Regions from separate parts of the Homo sapiens genome. Here region 1 is linked to region 2. Evidence: fine-mapped expression QTL. Tissue or cell type: whole blood. Region 2 holds a variant in brackets; the other region holds the start of a gene. All regions are shown on one strand. Distances are between the middles of the regions.

Region 1 (8,188 bases), 22 kb after region 2:
TTTATTTTATTTATTTATTTATTTTTTTTTTTAGGGAGAATCTTGCTCTGTCACCCAGGCTGGAGTACAGCGGTGCAATCACAGCTCACTGCAACCTCTGCCACCACGCCTGGTTAATTTTTTATTTTTTGTAGAGACGAAGTCTCACTATATTGCCCAGGATGGCCTCAAATTCCTGGACTCAAGTGATCCTCCCGCCTCGGCCTCCCAAAGTGCTGGGATTACAGGTCTGAGCCACTGCGCCTGGCCTAGATCTACATTTTTAATGAACACAGAACCAAAATGACTCTGAAGCAACCTTTACCAGGACACAGTTCAAAGATCTGGATCCTGCGAAACAAGTTTGTTTGTTTCTTTTCTTTTTTCTTTTTTTTTTTTCTTTTTCTATTCTCTGGGGTGTGGCACGTCACCCTGGCTGACTTAGCTCCCTTCTTTTTTGGTTTCGTTTGTGAAGTTTAAAGGCCAGATTTATATCAGGCCTGGGACCTGTTTTTCTTTCAAAAGCCCCCCAGTGAACTACCTTATCTCTTTCTAGATCCCTCCTCATTCTCTAATCTCTCTAATCTAACTTGCCAAGGGGCCTGTGGCAAAGGTAGAGCAATCTGTCCTTTTGGGCTTGCTCATATTAAGTGCAGAAACAAGCTGAGAGAGAACCACAGATTTTGCTCTCTTACACTCCCTCGTACCCAATCAAGTCCAGTTAAATTTTTTTTTTTTTTAAAAAAAGCAAATCTGAGATAATGTCACTCTCCAGGTTAAGATTCCTGCACTCCTCAGTGCCCTCTTGGCCACGCACCCCAGCCGGTGGCCCTAGGCAACAAAGGTCTGGCTCAGTTGGCCCACCTCCAAGCTTCCACAACTGCTTTCAGTTTCTCCACTACAAGAAGCTTCACCCCACCCCACTCTGCCCTGCCAAGAGTTCTTAGCAGCCACTGACACTTCCTCCAGGAAGCCAATCCCACCCTACCAGTGCCCCAGTCTATGAACTGTCCTGCTCTGGGTCCGCAACTACTCCAAGAAAGTAGTTTTTCTGAACTTCTCTGTAATTTTGGTTCACTGCCCTCATCCCTAGGCCCCCAACACATGCATACACACACATGCACTTGTGCACACACACAATAAGTAACTCCTGAAGGACAAATTCTGTGTGTCATAGGCCCAGCACCTAGCCCAATGCCTGACACCCAGTTGGTAACCCTCTAAATATTTACTGAATGAATGGATACATAAAAATGAACACTTTCAGCCAGGCATGGTGGCCCATGCCTATAATCTCAGCACTTTGGGAAGCAAGGCGGGCAAATTGCTTGGGCTCAGGAGTTTGAGAACAGCCTGGGCAACAAGGTGAAACCCTATCTCTACAAAGAATACAAATAATAATAATAATAGTGTACTGGCGCATGCCTGTAGTCCCAGCTACTCAAGAGGCTGATGTAGGAGGATCACCTGAGCCCAGGGAGGTTGAGTCTGCAGTGAGCTACGATCATGCCACTGCACTCCAGCCTACGTGGCAGAGTGAGACCCTGTCTCAAAAAAAAAAAAAGACGTTAAAATAAATTTTCTCTTTCTCTTGTTGGGTCATGAAAGTGACCAGGAAACACTCAAATCCCACTTGGAAGTGGTGCTACATCTCACCCATGGAAATTTGAAAAGATCAAAAATATCAATGCAGGCCACATATGCTCATGGTTTTAGACAAAACCAAAACTTCAGGAAAGTTTTCAGATATTAAAGCTACAGCAGGCAGCAGGAAGTCTTTAAGAGGTGCTGGTGATGAGAACCCAATAAATAAATTTTAAAATAAAGCCAGAACAGAAACACTGAGTTGAGACAGTTCCTGCATGAGCCCACTTTGGCTGCGAAACGCCAAGGCCACCAAGTAATTGACCTTGCTCTTTTTTTTCATAGGTTTTTGTGGAACAGGTGGTGTTTGATTACATAAGTTCTTTAATGGTGATTTGTGAGATTTTGGTGTAGTCATCACCCAAGCAGTATGCCCTGTACCCATGACCTTGTTCTTAATTCTGTACATAGCTCGCCCTTCTGCCTACTACAGTCGGTGTCCTGTTCTCATTCGTCTAATGCCCTTCATGATCAACTCCTGGGCTTGCACCTTTCTTAGAAGCACACTCCCCACTTCATCTTTTTTGCATTCCTTCTTCAGAAATAACCACATAGCATTATTATTTGTTTCTGTCTTTTCTGCTAAAATCAAAGGGGACAAATAATATATTGTCCAGGTCTGAATTGGAATGTGGTCTGTGGACTAGCATAGCATCACTTGGGAGTTTGTCAGAAATGCAAACTCTCAGCTTCCACCTCAGACCACCTGATTCATAATCAGCATTTTAACCAGCTTCCCCAGGAGATTCCCATGCACATTAAAGTTTGAGGAGCACTGGGCTAGATCCTACATTCACTCAACAAATATTTATTGAACCAGTGTAGGATACAGAGGTGCTTAACATAAACCTGAGCATATGGTGTGGAAAAAGAGCAAGCATAGACATTCCATTGTGACTGAGAAGCTCCTGCAAGTACCAAGAAGAGTATAACCTAGATGTTCTAGTAGAATAAATTATAGTTATGTCAAAATTCAGAAGTGGTCACTGCAGCTTGGTTGTGACAATCGGGAATCTGGAATCTGGGAACTTGACCCTCTTTACAGCAGGCAGGAAGAATACAGGGAGGTGTGAGTGTGTGTGAGTGTGTCTCTTCCCTGCCTCAGCCACAGGCCGCAGGAGCTGACAAGGCCAAGTCCCCGCCCCCCTCAGCTGTCACCCTGTCAAAACAAAGCCGCTGCTGACAGCGCAGGGCCAGCCTGCCCCGCGGCCTCGGGCAATCCTCCCACCTCGGGAACACAGCCTCCACATCTGGATCTGCAGCTGGAGGTGACAGGGTGCCTAAACTGGCATGGAGAGTGGGTAGCAAGAAATGGGTGTCCTCAAACTGAGCAGTAGCGCCCGCCGCGCTGGGCTGTCACTTTGCCAAATCCTGTTTACACCTCGAGCAGCTGGGACAGCGTTTTAACTAAACAAGTAATAATACAATAATGACAGGGCTGTCACCGCGCGCGGCAGTGCCTCCGCCCCCAGCCGAGGGCGCCAGGCACCACAAGACCCTCGCCTCGGACTCTGCCCACCTTCCCACCCCGCGCTTTCCTCCCCTTCGCTTTCCCAAAGCGCCAGGAGTCCGGGAGTCTTCTCCACCCCCACTCCTTGCACCCAGTTCCTCCCAGTGGGACACAGGAAGGGATCGATTGCAGAAGGGACCACTCAGTCCCCCAAAAGATTTTTCCTTGCCCCTGGGTCACCCGCCACATGGAGAGCACCGCTCCACTCCCGGGAAAGTGACTCCAGCGAGCTCCTACAGAGCAACAAAACCCCAAGGTAGCCCGGGAGCTCGGATGCCGAAGCTACTCCTTTCAAGCGGAAGGAATGAAGGGCTCTCCGTCTTAGTGATCCCCCTTCTTCAAACCCAGCAGGACTCTTATCCAAGAAGAAGCTAATTGGGCGCGGGCGACAAGAGCACTTCCGCGGTGCAGCGGCCCCAGGCGGGAGGCGAGAGGCAGGAGGCGGGAGGCGGAGGTGGAAGCGGGAGGGGGAGGGGGGTCCCGCGGGCTGGGCCCCTAGCACCCATCCGCGGTCCGAGAGCGGCGAGCGCGTACCTTGCAGGCGGAGTACACTCCGAGTTTCTCCAGTTTCTTGGCCCGCGGAGCGGAGCGTAGTTGCGCTTTCTTCACGGCGATTCGGGCCGAGCCACCGCCTCCCGGTCCTTCGGCCGTGCCCGCTGCAGCCACTGCCGTCGCCGGACCGCAGGCGCCCGAGCCCCCGGCGGCAGCGGCGCAGGGGGAGCCCTGCGGGGGCGCGGGCGGAAGCGCCGCAGGCTGCGGGGGCAGCGCCCCGGGCCCGGCCCCTGCCCCGGCTCCTGCCCCGCAGCCGCCCGGCCCGGCCCCGCCAGCCTCGGACATGCCGCCCCGGAGCACGGCAGGAGGCGCCGAGTGTCAGGCGCCGCCGCCGCCGCCAGGGTCTCCCTCTCGGGCTCTGGTAGTCGGGAGAGCGAGACCCTCCCCCCACGCCCTCCCGCCCCCTTCGCCCACCCCCCTCCCCGCCCCCGCCCTCCCCCTAGCGCGCCGCTCGCCCGGCTCGCTCTGGCCGGGCCCCGCGCGCTGATGGTGGTGGCGGCGGCGGCAGCGGCGGCAGCTGCTCCCCCAGGAGGGAGGGGACTAGCGGCTCCGCTGCCGCTGCCGCCGCCGCCACAGCACACGCCCTCCCTTGGTTCTCCTGCCCGGGACTCTGCTCCGCGCCCTGGCTGCGGACATGTTCCTCGGGACTGCGGACTAGGTGTGCGTGCCGGCGGCTGCCAGCCTCACGGTGTCTGCCAGCGCTGGGAGGCCCCCCACGGCCTCTTTTCCGCTGCCCGCGGGGTTTGCACCCCCCACCCCAGTGCTTCGACACCTACCGCTCGCCCGCCAGGGGGCGAGGCCAATCCCTGGGTGTGGGTGAGGGTGGGGACGAGGGTGGGGGTAGGGGCCTGGAGCCCAGGCACCTGCTGGCCACCTCCCCCCTCCGCGGCCCCCCATCCGACCCCCGCACGCCTGCACCAGTGGGAGGGGGCAGCCTCTCAATCATTTGTCCTTTCACTCTCTTCCACCCTGTCTCTGACAGAGAGACAACTTCCTCCACCCTAGCGGGAGCCAGAGGAAAAAAAATATATTTTTGAAAAGTACCCGTCCATGCTAATCTTTTTCTTTGTTGCTAATTCACCAAAATAAAGACGTGATGTTCTCCCTTTCTCTTTTTAAATACTTTCTGTCAAACTATTTTTTAATATAATTAACACTTTCTTCCCATAGCAATTTCTGGGTCAAATCTGCCGGAGGAGGGGAAAAAAACTTACTATTCTCTGTAATTTTTGTTTGAAAGTGCTGGTTGCTAAAAGAAAGATTGTCTAAAAAGCATTGTCAAAAACTATGCAGTGGAAAAAGTTTGAATACAAAAAGTTTGTTAACAGGATTCGTTTCTGGGTGGTGGTTCTATAACGTTACGTAGTTTTCAAAATTGTGCCACCGCGTGCGTATTAACCAGGAAAAAGATATAAGCATAATTCAAAAGAATAAATATCGATTTTGGCCTCAAACTTTAAAAAGAAAAAAAAAACCCTCAACTCAGTGTTTCCAACTCTTGTTGAAAACTGTTGTTTTCACTGTTGATGACTGTGGAGCATACAAGTCAGTGCTGCGTTTGAAAGTGGTGTACCGTTGATCGCCTTCTTAAGCAGGTTTTAAAAGCCCAGGGCTTTTTCTCAGGACCCTTCAGAAGTGCCCTACTTTTTGTTATATGCAATGTGGGTCATAATGTGCTTATTATCAGATTTTATGCATGCTGTATAGCTCTCAGGCCAGACGCTTTAAGGGGTGTGCTTTTCGTGGGAAACATTCCCCTTCTTCTTTTTCCAGATTCTCTGTGTTATTTTGACTTGTAATGCAGGTTAATATATAAACATTGGGAGGTGGGGGAGTTTGTAGATCTAAACAGTGATATTAGCTTAGACAGGGCAAAAGGCAATATTCTCTCCCAACTTGAGTCCAGTCTTGAGGGGATGAAATGGCAGATTCTTATCAGGTTCCATTCAGGACAATTAATTTCAGTGCTTCCTTTCTTAGCTTGACGTGCTTCACGTTACCAGTGTTACTCTCTCCTGGCTCTGCTGAGATGTTTCGCAGATTTTTGCCATTCTCCGCAAAGCAGGGTGAGAGTCTTAAAGGCTGTGCTTCTCTGATCAACCTCTAACATGGATTTAACAGATACTAATAAGAGCTTGGGTTCCACCTTGCAGGCATTTGTCAAACTGATGGAATGATCCACTTGAGATCTGTACATTTCACTGGATATAAATGTTGCCTCAAAAATTTTTAAAAAAAGAAAAATCACAAGCATTGAACTCTAATGGTGCTCTTTGTACTTTGAGATACATCAAAAATAAGATGTATGGATGCCTCCATGCATGGGTAAAGGGTGGATGAACAGAGATATGATAAAGCAAATAGGGGTCCATATAATAGAGTCTAGGTAATGGGCACAGTGCGCAATTCTTTCAACTTTTCTGTATGTTTGAAAATTTTCACAGTGACAATTGGGGGAGGGAACCCAGATTTAACATTAAGTCACCTATCAACTCCTCCTCCCAAGCGTCCCTCAGAATTCAGGAGGCAGACAATTTCCAGGATGTTTTGAAGCAGAAGTAGCCAATCTCCTTTCAATCCACTCTGAAAACCATCACTGTCTGAGTGGCGAATGGCTTGTGCCATTAACTGAACATTATTTTTCATTATTTCCCTGCTCAGAGTACCCAGATGACATACTGCCTTAGGCTGAAGGCCCGTGGTTTCAAGACCTATTCAAAGTGTGTTATGAGCACCAGGCAAGGAAATTTCAAGGGCAAAGGATTCAGGAGGCTTATTGCTTTTCCATAATTAGGTTGTTGTAAGCATTCAGTGTGCTCTTTCTGTGCACACAGTACTTTTAAGAAATAACTACCAAGAAAATAAAAGGCAATGTTTTCATTTACAAAGTATTTACCACTTACTGAGGTAAAGAAGCTACATTCAGAAAATAAAAGCTTGGAGAGTGGGCATGGTAGAGGCAGGCTGACCACTGGAGGTTACTTGTGGTATATTCACACAACAGAATATTTTATACCTGTTATACACAATGACCTTTATAAAAATATAATAACATAGATCTCTAAGAAACACTGTTGAATAAATCTCAGTGCAGCATAATACCATTTATGTTAAAAACAAACTCACATTGACATATAAGCACAATTTTGTATATGTTCAATAAATGCATGGGAAATTCAAAAGTAAGGGAAAGATTTAAAAAGGTACATAGCAATAAAATAAAATTTCAACTTCAGAACACGAGATTATATAACAAGAAGTTGATAAGGTCCACCCCTTCCCATTCTCCCTGGTGCTGCAGTATACTTCAGCCAAACTCAGGAAATGCTTTCCTACCTCAGGGCCTTTGCATTTGCTGTACTATGTGGATACCCTCCACCAAACAGCATGGCTAACCCTATTCATCTGGTATTCCTTGCTCAGAGATGCCTTCCTAAAAAAGGCAAGTTTTGTGGCCATCTATTGTTATATCATCTAGCAGAGTTTCTTGCCATATTCCTTCCTACCAAGGCTATACAGCTTCTGTAATGTACCAGTAACCCTGAATCCCACAGATGGATTGAAATTATCCCCAGTAAAGGCACAGACTGTAAGGGTACAGATCAAGTGGTCAAAGTGCAGGTTTGGCCCAGTACATGGACCATGACTGACATTCTTCCCAGACACCTGCTTTTAGAAACAGCAGTTGGATATGAGTGTAAAATAAAGAGACATGTCAATGCCTAAGTGGGGCTCCTTGGGCCAACCTTCCTCTGAGGGAAGTGGCTATAATTACTGAACATTTATTTTAAATTAAATAAAATAAATCCTCCTAGGAAAAAAGTTTTGAAAATAATAAATGAATCCTAGGATGAGGAAACATAAAATCCCCTTCCCTAGTTTTCAAGCATTTATGAATTAAATCATTTCCAGTGTGAATCTTAACCATGCCCCAAATACCATTAGTGCTTTCTTTTTTTTTTGAGACAGAGCCTCGCTTTGTCGCCTGGGCTGGAGTGCAGTGGCGCTATCTCGGCTCACTGCAACCTCCATCTCCTGGGTTCAAGCGATTCTCCTGCCTCAGCCTCCCGAGTAGCTGGAATTACAGGCGCCCACCATCACGCCCAGCTGATTTTTTATATTTTTGGTAGAGATAGGATTTCACCATGTTGGCCAGGCTGGTCTCGAACCCCTGACCTCGTGATTCACCCGCCTTGGCCTCCTAAAGTGTTGAGATTACAGGCGTGAGCCACCATGCCCAGCGCCATTAGTGCTATTTTATTCAACCTTTTTTTTTTTCTTTTTGAGGCAGGGTCTAGCTCTGTCACCCAAGCTGGAGTGCTGTGTTATGATCAAGGCACACTGCAGCCTCGACCTCCTGGGCTCAAGTAATCCTCCTACCTGAGCCTCCCAAGTAGCTGGGACTACAGACATGTGCCACCACACTCGGCTACTTTTTTTTTTTTTTCCAATTTTTATTAGAAACAAGGTCTCAATATGTTGCCCAGACTGGTCTCTCACTCC
Region 2 (8,188 bases):
GAATTATTTTATATTGATTACATATTATAATAATATTTTGAAATATTCAGTTAAAGTAAAAATTAGAATTAATAAAATTAAATTTTTGGCTTTTCTGATTTTTTTTTTTTAATGCGGTGCAGTGGGTTAAATAGTGTGTGCCCTAAAGTTCATGTCCCAGCCAGGTGCGGTGGCTCATGCCTGTAATCCCAGCACTTTGGGATGCCGAGGTGGGAGGATCACACATGAGGTCAGGAGTTCGAGACCAGCCTGGCCAACATGGTGAAACCCTGTCTCTAATAAAAACACAAAAATTAGCCAGGCATAGTGACACATGCCTGTAATCCCAGCTACTCGGGAAGCTGAGGCAGGAGAATTGCTTGAACCCAGGAGGCCAAAGTTGCAGTAAGCTGAGATGGCACCACTGCACTCCAGCTAGGTGACAGAGTGAGACTGTCTCAAATAATAATAATAAATAAAGTTCATGTTCCCCTGGAACCTCAAAATGGGGCCATATTTGGAAATAGGTTCATTGCAGATGTGATCAGTTAAGGACATGCAGATGAAATTATCCTAAGCCCTAAAACCAATGACTGGCGTTTTCCTAAGAGAAAGAAGAAGGAGATTTGGAGACAGACACAGACAAACAGTAAAGAAGGCCAAGTGAAGATAGAAGCAGAGGCTGGATCTCACTATGAGACAGACCAGGGTCTCACTATAAGCCAAAGAATGCCAAGGATTGCCAAGCACCACCAGATGCTAGGAAGAGGCAAGGAAAGATTCTTCCCTACAGCCTTCAAAAGGAGTGTGGCCCAGATGACATCTTGATCTCAGACTTCTAGCCTCCAAAACTGTGAATAAAAAAAAAACTGTATTTGTTGTTTTAAGCCACATATTTTGTGGTTATTTGTTATGACAGGCCTAAGAAACTAATACACAGGACTACTAGAAAATGTTAAATAATACATGCGGCCTCCATATTACTATTGGATATTGGTGCACTAGACTATAAAGGGACTCCACCCCCAAGCCCCAGGTCTTCACTATGGACCCTAACAGTTTAAGCATAGAATAGTCTCAGCATCCCTAAGTGGTCCTAACTCTTTAAAGTTATACCCTATTGATATATATGAGAATCCCTTGAGTTTTCCTTACTTGTTTCAGTATTTTTTGCAGGATATGAAAATTGGTTCTTGCATGTGTGCATGCTCCATGGGACACCTAACAACCTAAGTGTACAAAATTTTTAATATATATGGGACTCGTTACTTGATTTGCTAAAAAGGACATACTGTGTCCTTTAAAAAACAGTCAATGCTCTTATCCTTGACTGCCAGCAAAGCATTTTCTGCCAAGTTTTCTGAGCTGCTGCTACCATGCCCTCCACTTTGGCCTTCATCTCCCCATTCCAATGTTCAGGCCTGGCCACTGTTCTTCGAGATAAGAGGTCTCCTTTCAAAACACCTTTCCCATGTCTCTCCTTAATTAGGCATGACAGCTGCTGTCTAAGGGAACTCCCAAGGGAGTTGGCCTTGCAGCTTTAATGAAGTACCAGCTGAAGGACAACCTTTTAGGGAGTGCACTGCCAAGCCAATTACTGTAGCAGCTAGCAACCTGGGCACAGGGAGGGGAAAGCTACCCAGATGACTTCATCCCCCCAAGAGCACATCTCTGCAGACATTGCAGAACCAAGAAAGAAGAAAAGGCCACTGCACTACTTTCAACAGGACTGGGATAATGTTTTCATCCCAACAGGATCCAGGGTTAGAGGTCAATAGTATGCAACCGATGTTGTTATAGTATGCAGAAACCAGGATGGATGATGAGAAAGAAGATAAACTGGATAAACAAGTAGTCACAACCCAGATTACAGACAGACAAGGGGTGGAGAGCTCACAGTTCACGCAGTGTTAATGAGTGAGATGGGTGTGAAGATATTTGAGTGGCATCCAGAGGAACAGGAGAAAGACAGCCAGCTGTCTAGCAAAATTCTGTCATGCTTAAAATATTGGAAAGTCGCATTTGTTGGAAAACTTAAATTAGTGTCAAGGATGTCCCACAGCAAGAACACGTTGATGGAAAATTTATTCAGTATAACTGATCCAACATTTATTTAGCACCCAAAATTAAAAATGTACATGTACTCTTATCTCACTCGATGTAAGTAAAGTATGAATTATTGCCATTATTAAAAGAGAAAGCTGAGGCTCTAGGTGATAAGAGACTTGCCTGGGGTTACTCATTCTACCCTGCAGATGCACAAAATGTGTCCAGGCAGGTAACTGGCACTGTGGTTGTGAGAGAGGAAGGACTCACTCTTATTCACTACCTCTCTGCTCCATGCTGGACAAAGTCATAATGTTTAAATGTCAAGGATCAAAACCGTAACTTCTCACCCAATAAGATCTCTCTAACCAAATATAGATAGGAGGAGTAAATTCTGGTGTTCTATCGCACAGCAGAGTGACTATAGTTAACAATAATATATTGCATATTACAAAATAGCTACAAGAGAGGATTTTGAATGTTCTCATCACAAAGAAATGACAAGTGATTGAGGTGATGAACATGCTAATTACACTGATTTGGCCATTACACAATGTATACATGTTTCAAAACACCACACTATGCCCCCATCAATATGTATAATTATTAGGTGTCAATTAAACACAAAATAAGTTCTTTTTTCAAAAGGAGCTGACAATAACAAATTATCAGGCATGTGAAAAATTGGAATCCTCATACAGTGTTTGTGGGATGTAACAAGGTACAACCACCTTGGAAAACAGTTTGCTAGCTTCTTATATACTAATGGAACAGAATAGATAGCCCAGAAATAAACCCTCACAGATAATGGTCAAATGATTTTGACAAGTGTGCCAAGACCATTCAATAGAGAAAGGACAGTCTTTTCAATAAATGGTGCTGGAAAAACTAGGTATCTGTGTGCACAAGAATGAAGCTGGACCCTTAGCTAATAACACACACACAAATGAACTCAAAATAGATGAAAGACTTCAACATAAAATTGTGAATCTCGGCCGGGCGTGGTGGCTCACGTCTGTAATCCCAGCACTTGGGGAGGCCGAAGCAGTTGGATCACGAGGTCAGGAGTTCAAGACCAGCCTGGCCAACATGGTGAAACCCTGTCACTACTAAAAATACAAAAATTAACCGGGCATGGTGGCTCACGTCTGTAATCCCAGCTACTTGGGAGGCTGAGGCAGGAGAATTGCTTGAACCTGGGAGGCAGAGGTTGCAGTGAGCTGAGATTGTGCCACTACATTCCAGCCTGGGCAACAGAGCAACCATCTCAAAAAAAAAAAAAAAAAAAAAAAAAAAAAAGAGGCCTACTCAGAAGTTGCTGTGAGGTGAGATCGCACCACTGCACTCCAGCCTGAGCAACAGGGCGAGACCCCATCTCAAAAGAAAAAAAAAGAAAGAAAGAAAGAATCTCTTAAAAGAAAATACAGAAAAAATCTTCATGATACTAGATCAGGCAATGGTGTCTTGGATATAATACCAAAAGCACAGGCGGCCAGGTGTGGTGGCTCAGGTGTATAATCCCAGCACGCTGGGAAGGTCAGGAGTTCAAGACCAGCCTGAGCAACAAACAAGACTCCATCTCTACAAAAATTTTAAAAATTAGCTGGACATAGTGGTGCACGCCTGCAGTCACAGCCACTCAGAAGGCTGAGGCAGGCAGATCCCTTGAGCCTAGGAATTCGAGGCAGCAATGGGCCATGACTGTGCCACTGTACTCCAGCCTGGGAAACAGAGCAAGATACTGTCTAAAAATAAATAACAAAAACACAGGCAACAAAAGAAAAACAGATAAACTGGAATTAGGAAAAACTTTAAATTTCTGTGCACCAAAAGACATACACAACAGAGTGAAAAGGCAACCCAGAGAATGGGAGAAAATATTTGCAAACCATATATTTGATAACAGGTTAATATCCAAAATATATAAAGAATGCCTACAACTCAACAACAACAACAACAACGAAATTTTACAATGGGCAAAGGACTTGAGCAGACACTTCTCCAAAGAAAATATACAAATGGTCAATAAACACATGAAAAGATGCTCAACATCATTAATAATTATGAAAATGGGCCAGGCACGGTGACTCACGCCTGTAATCCCAATACTTTGAGAGGCTGAGGCAGGTGGATCACCTGAGCTCAGGAATGCAAGACCAGTCTGGCAAACAAGGCGAAACCCCGTCTCTACTAAAAACACAAAAATTGGCTGGGCGTGGCGGCGCATGCCTGTAATCCCAGCTACTCGGGAAGCTGAGGCAAGAGAATCGCTTGAACCCAGGAGGCAGACGTTACAATGAGCCGAGATCATGCCACTGCACTCCAGCCTGGGTGACAGAGCAAAACTACCTCTAATATATATATATATAAAATAAAATATATATAATTTCTATATATTATATATTATATATAATAATATATAATATATAATATATAATTTATTATGTTATATATAATATATTATAAATTATATATAAAATATATTATATATTATATTTTATACATAATAAATATTTTATATATATTATATTTTATATATTATATATTATATTTTATATATTATATATTATATATCATATTTTATATATTATATATTTTATATATATTTTTATATATAATATATTTTATATAAAATATATATATTTTATATATTATATATTATATATATTATATATTATATATTTTTATATATTATATATTTTATATATATATGTTTTATATAATATATATTATATGTTTTATATATAATATATATTATATGTTTTATATATAATATATATTATATGTTTTATATATAATATATATTATGTTTTATATATAATATATATTATATGTTTTATATATTATATGTTTTATATATAATATATATTATGTTTTATATATAATATATATTATGTTTTATATATGATATATAATACATATTTTATATATAATATATAATACATATTTTATACAAATATATTATATATTTTATGTATATTATATATATTTTATGTATA[T/ATATAT]TATATATTATATACTTTATGTATAATATATAATATATAATATATTTTATGTATTATAAATTATATATTTTTATGTATAATATATTTTTTCATATATATTATTTTTTCATATATACGTATGAAAATACAAATTAAAACTACAATGAAATACCACCTCACTCCCATTAGCATGGCTACTACAAAAGAAACAGAAAACAGTGTTGGAGAGGATGTAGAGAAACTGGAAACCTTGAATATTCCTGCTGAAGACGTAAAATGGTATGGCTGCTATGGAAAACAGTATGACAGTTCCTCAAAATATTAGAAATGGAATTACTATATGACGCAGCAATTCCACTTCTGGGTATATACCCAAAAGAATTGAAAGTAGGAAGTCAAAGAAATATTTGGACACCCATGTCCTAGTATCATTATTAAGCACAACAGCAAGAAGGTCCAAGCAACCCCAGCATCCCTTAAGAGATGAATAAATAAGTAAAACGTAGTATATACATTCAAAGGGCTATTATATAACCTTAAAAAGAAAGGCAACTCTGACACATGCCACAACCTGAATGAAACTTGAGAATGTTATGCTAAGTAAAATAGTCACAAAATGACAAATACTGTATGATTCCACTTAGATAAGGTGTCTATGGTAGCCAAATTCATAGAGATAGGAATGGTGGTTGCCGAGGGGTTGGAGGAAGGAAGAGGGAGTTACTGTTTAATGAACACAGAGTTTCAGTTTTGCAAGCTGAAAAGTGTTCTGTGGATGAATGGTGGTGATGATTGCACAATAATGTGAATTTCTTAATACCAATGAACTAGACACTTAAAAATAGTTCAGATGGTAAACTTTAGATCATCTATATTTTACCACAGTTTTGTTGTTGTTGTTGTTGTTGTTGTTTTGAGACAGGGTCTCACTCTGTTGCCCAGGAGTGCAGTGGCATGATCATGGTTTATTACAACCTCAACCTCCTGGGTTCAAGCAATCCTCCAACTTCAGCCTCCTGAGTAGACAGGACCACAGGCATGTACCTCTACACCTGGATAATTTATTTTATTTTATTTTTTATTTTTATTTTTTGGTAGAGACAGGGTCTTACTATGTTACTCACGCTGGTCTCAAACTCCTGGACTCAAGGGATCTTCCCACCTCAGCCTCCCAAAGTACTAAGATTACAGGCCATGAGCTACCATGCCCAGCATTACCACAGTTTGTTGTTTGTGTGTTTGTTTGTTTGTTTTTAGACAGAGTTTCTCTCTTGTTGCCCAGGCTGGAGTGCAATGGCGTGATCTCAGCTCACTGCAACCTCCGCCTCCTGGGTTTAAGAGATTCTCCTGCCTCAGCCTCCCCAGTAGCTGGGATTACAGGCATGCACCACCATGCCCAGCTAATTTTGTATTTTTAGTAGAGACAGGGTTTCTCCCTGTTGGTCAGGTTGGTCTCAGACTCCCGACCTCAGGTGATCCGCCCGCCTTGGCCTCCCAAAGTACTGGGACTACAGGCGTGAGCCACCATGCCCAGCCCACAGTTTTTTAAGAAACAACAATTTTTTCAAAAAGTTAAACATAAATTTACCACATGACCCAGCAAATCCACTAAGTATCTACCCAAGAGAAACAGAAATATATCCATACTAAGACTTGCATGCAGATGCCTCAGCAACATTATTCATGATAGCCAAAAGGCAGAAATAATCTAAATGCCCATCAACTAGTTAACGCATAAGCAAAATGTGTTCTAGTCATATAACGGATTATTACTTGCAATGAAAGATAAAGAAGTGCTGACATATGCTACAACATGGATGTATCTCAAACACATTACACTCGGCATAAGAAGCCCATCATAAAAGGCCACATACTGTATACTTCCATTTACATGACCATCCAGAAAAGGCAAATTTATAGAGACAGAAAGATTAGTGGTCATCTGGGGTGGGGGGTAGGAACAGGGTTAACTGTAAATGGACCCAAGGATCCTTTGGAGGTGATGGAAATCTTCTAAAAGGTAGATTGTGGTGATGATTGTACAACTTGTCAATTTCTTAAAAATCATTGAATTGTACACTTAAAACTAGAGAATATTATGGTACCTAAATCATAACTCAGTAAAGTTTTTTTTGTTTTTGTTTTTGTTTTGAGATGGAGTCTCGCTCAGTCGCCCAGGCTGGAATGCAGTGGTACGATCTCGGCTCACCGCAAGCTCCACCTCCCAGGTTCACGCCATTCTCCTGCCTCAGCCTCCCAAGTAGCTGGGACTACAGGCGCCCGCCACCACACCTGGCTAATTTTTTGTATTTGTAGTAGAGGTGGGGTTTCACCGTGGTCTCGATCTCCTGACCTCGTGATCCACCTGCCTCGGCCTCCCAAAGTGCTGGGATTACAAGCGTGAGGCACCACGCCTGGCCTTTTTTTTTTTTTTTTTTTTTTTGAGACAGAGTCTCTGTCGCCCAGGCTGGAGTACAGTGGCATGATGATCTCAGCTCACTGCAACCTCCGCCTCCCAGGTTCAAGCGATTCTCCTGCCTCAGCCTCCCGAGTAGCTGGGACTACTAGACGCATGCCACCACGCCTGGCTAATTTTTGTATTTTTAGTAGAGACGGGGTTTCACCATGTTGGCCAGGCTGGTCTCGAACTCCCGACCTCAAGTGATCTGCCCACCTCAGCCTCCCAAAGTGCTGGGATTACAGGTGTGAGCCACATGCCCAGCAAGATATTTTAATAATATTTTTAAAAAACAACACCTGGAGTCCACTGTAAGCAGCTGGGATTGCCAGAAGTTTTCTCTTTGGAAATGAGCAGTTTGAATTATGCTGATGTAATTAGGAGTAGTGCTTCTCAAACTCCAATCTACTCAGGAATCACCTGGAGATCTCATCAAAATGAAGATTAAGATTCAGTGGGTGTCGGGTGGAACCTGAGATTCTACATTTCTAAAAGTTCCTGGGTGAAGACCACTCTTTGAGTAGCCAAGATTTGAAGAGATAAAGATGGTTTGACTTCAGCAACACCTTTCTCTTCTCCCTGAATTAACTTTAGCTTTTCATATACAGATTAAATGGTTCAGTAATCCTTCCCTGGGACACAAGCCCTTTTTCTTCCTCCACTGTGTGACAATCCTTCCAGTTCACACAGTTGTACATGGAAGGCCAGCAGAAGATACCATAATGCT

What was found. PIP is the estimated chance that this variant, and not a neighbour inherited with it, causes the effect.
Region 1: it holds the start of KAT2B, and the variant in region 2 is fine-mapped to the expression of KAT2B in whole blood (INTERVAL, PIP 0.91).

Annotation. Positions count from the first base shown.
Region 1 is chr3:20,036,260-20,044,447 of GRCh38, reverse strand. KAT2B (lysine acetyltransferase 2B) reads right to left here and starts at 4,002. Exons shown (of 18, transcript NM_003884.5): 1 at 3,668-4,002. The coding sequence starts at 3,970. RefSeq lists enhancers at 730-889, 970-1,139, 2,501-2,690, 3,407-4,377 and silencers at 3,541-3,600, 3,801-3,930, 4,101-4,740.
Region 2 is chr3:20,058,671-20,066,858 of GRCh38, reverse strand. All of the region lies in intron 1 of KAT2B (lysine acetyltransferase 2B), which reads right to left. Among named protein-coding and RNA genes, the nearest start is that of KAT2B, 22 kb to the right of the region's middle. RefSeq lists an enhancer at 7,777-7,946. The variant T/ATATAT (reference allele first, on the strand shown) is at 5,025.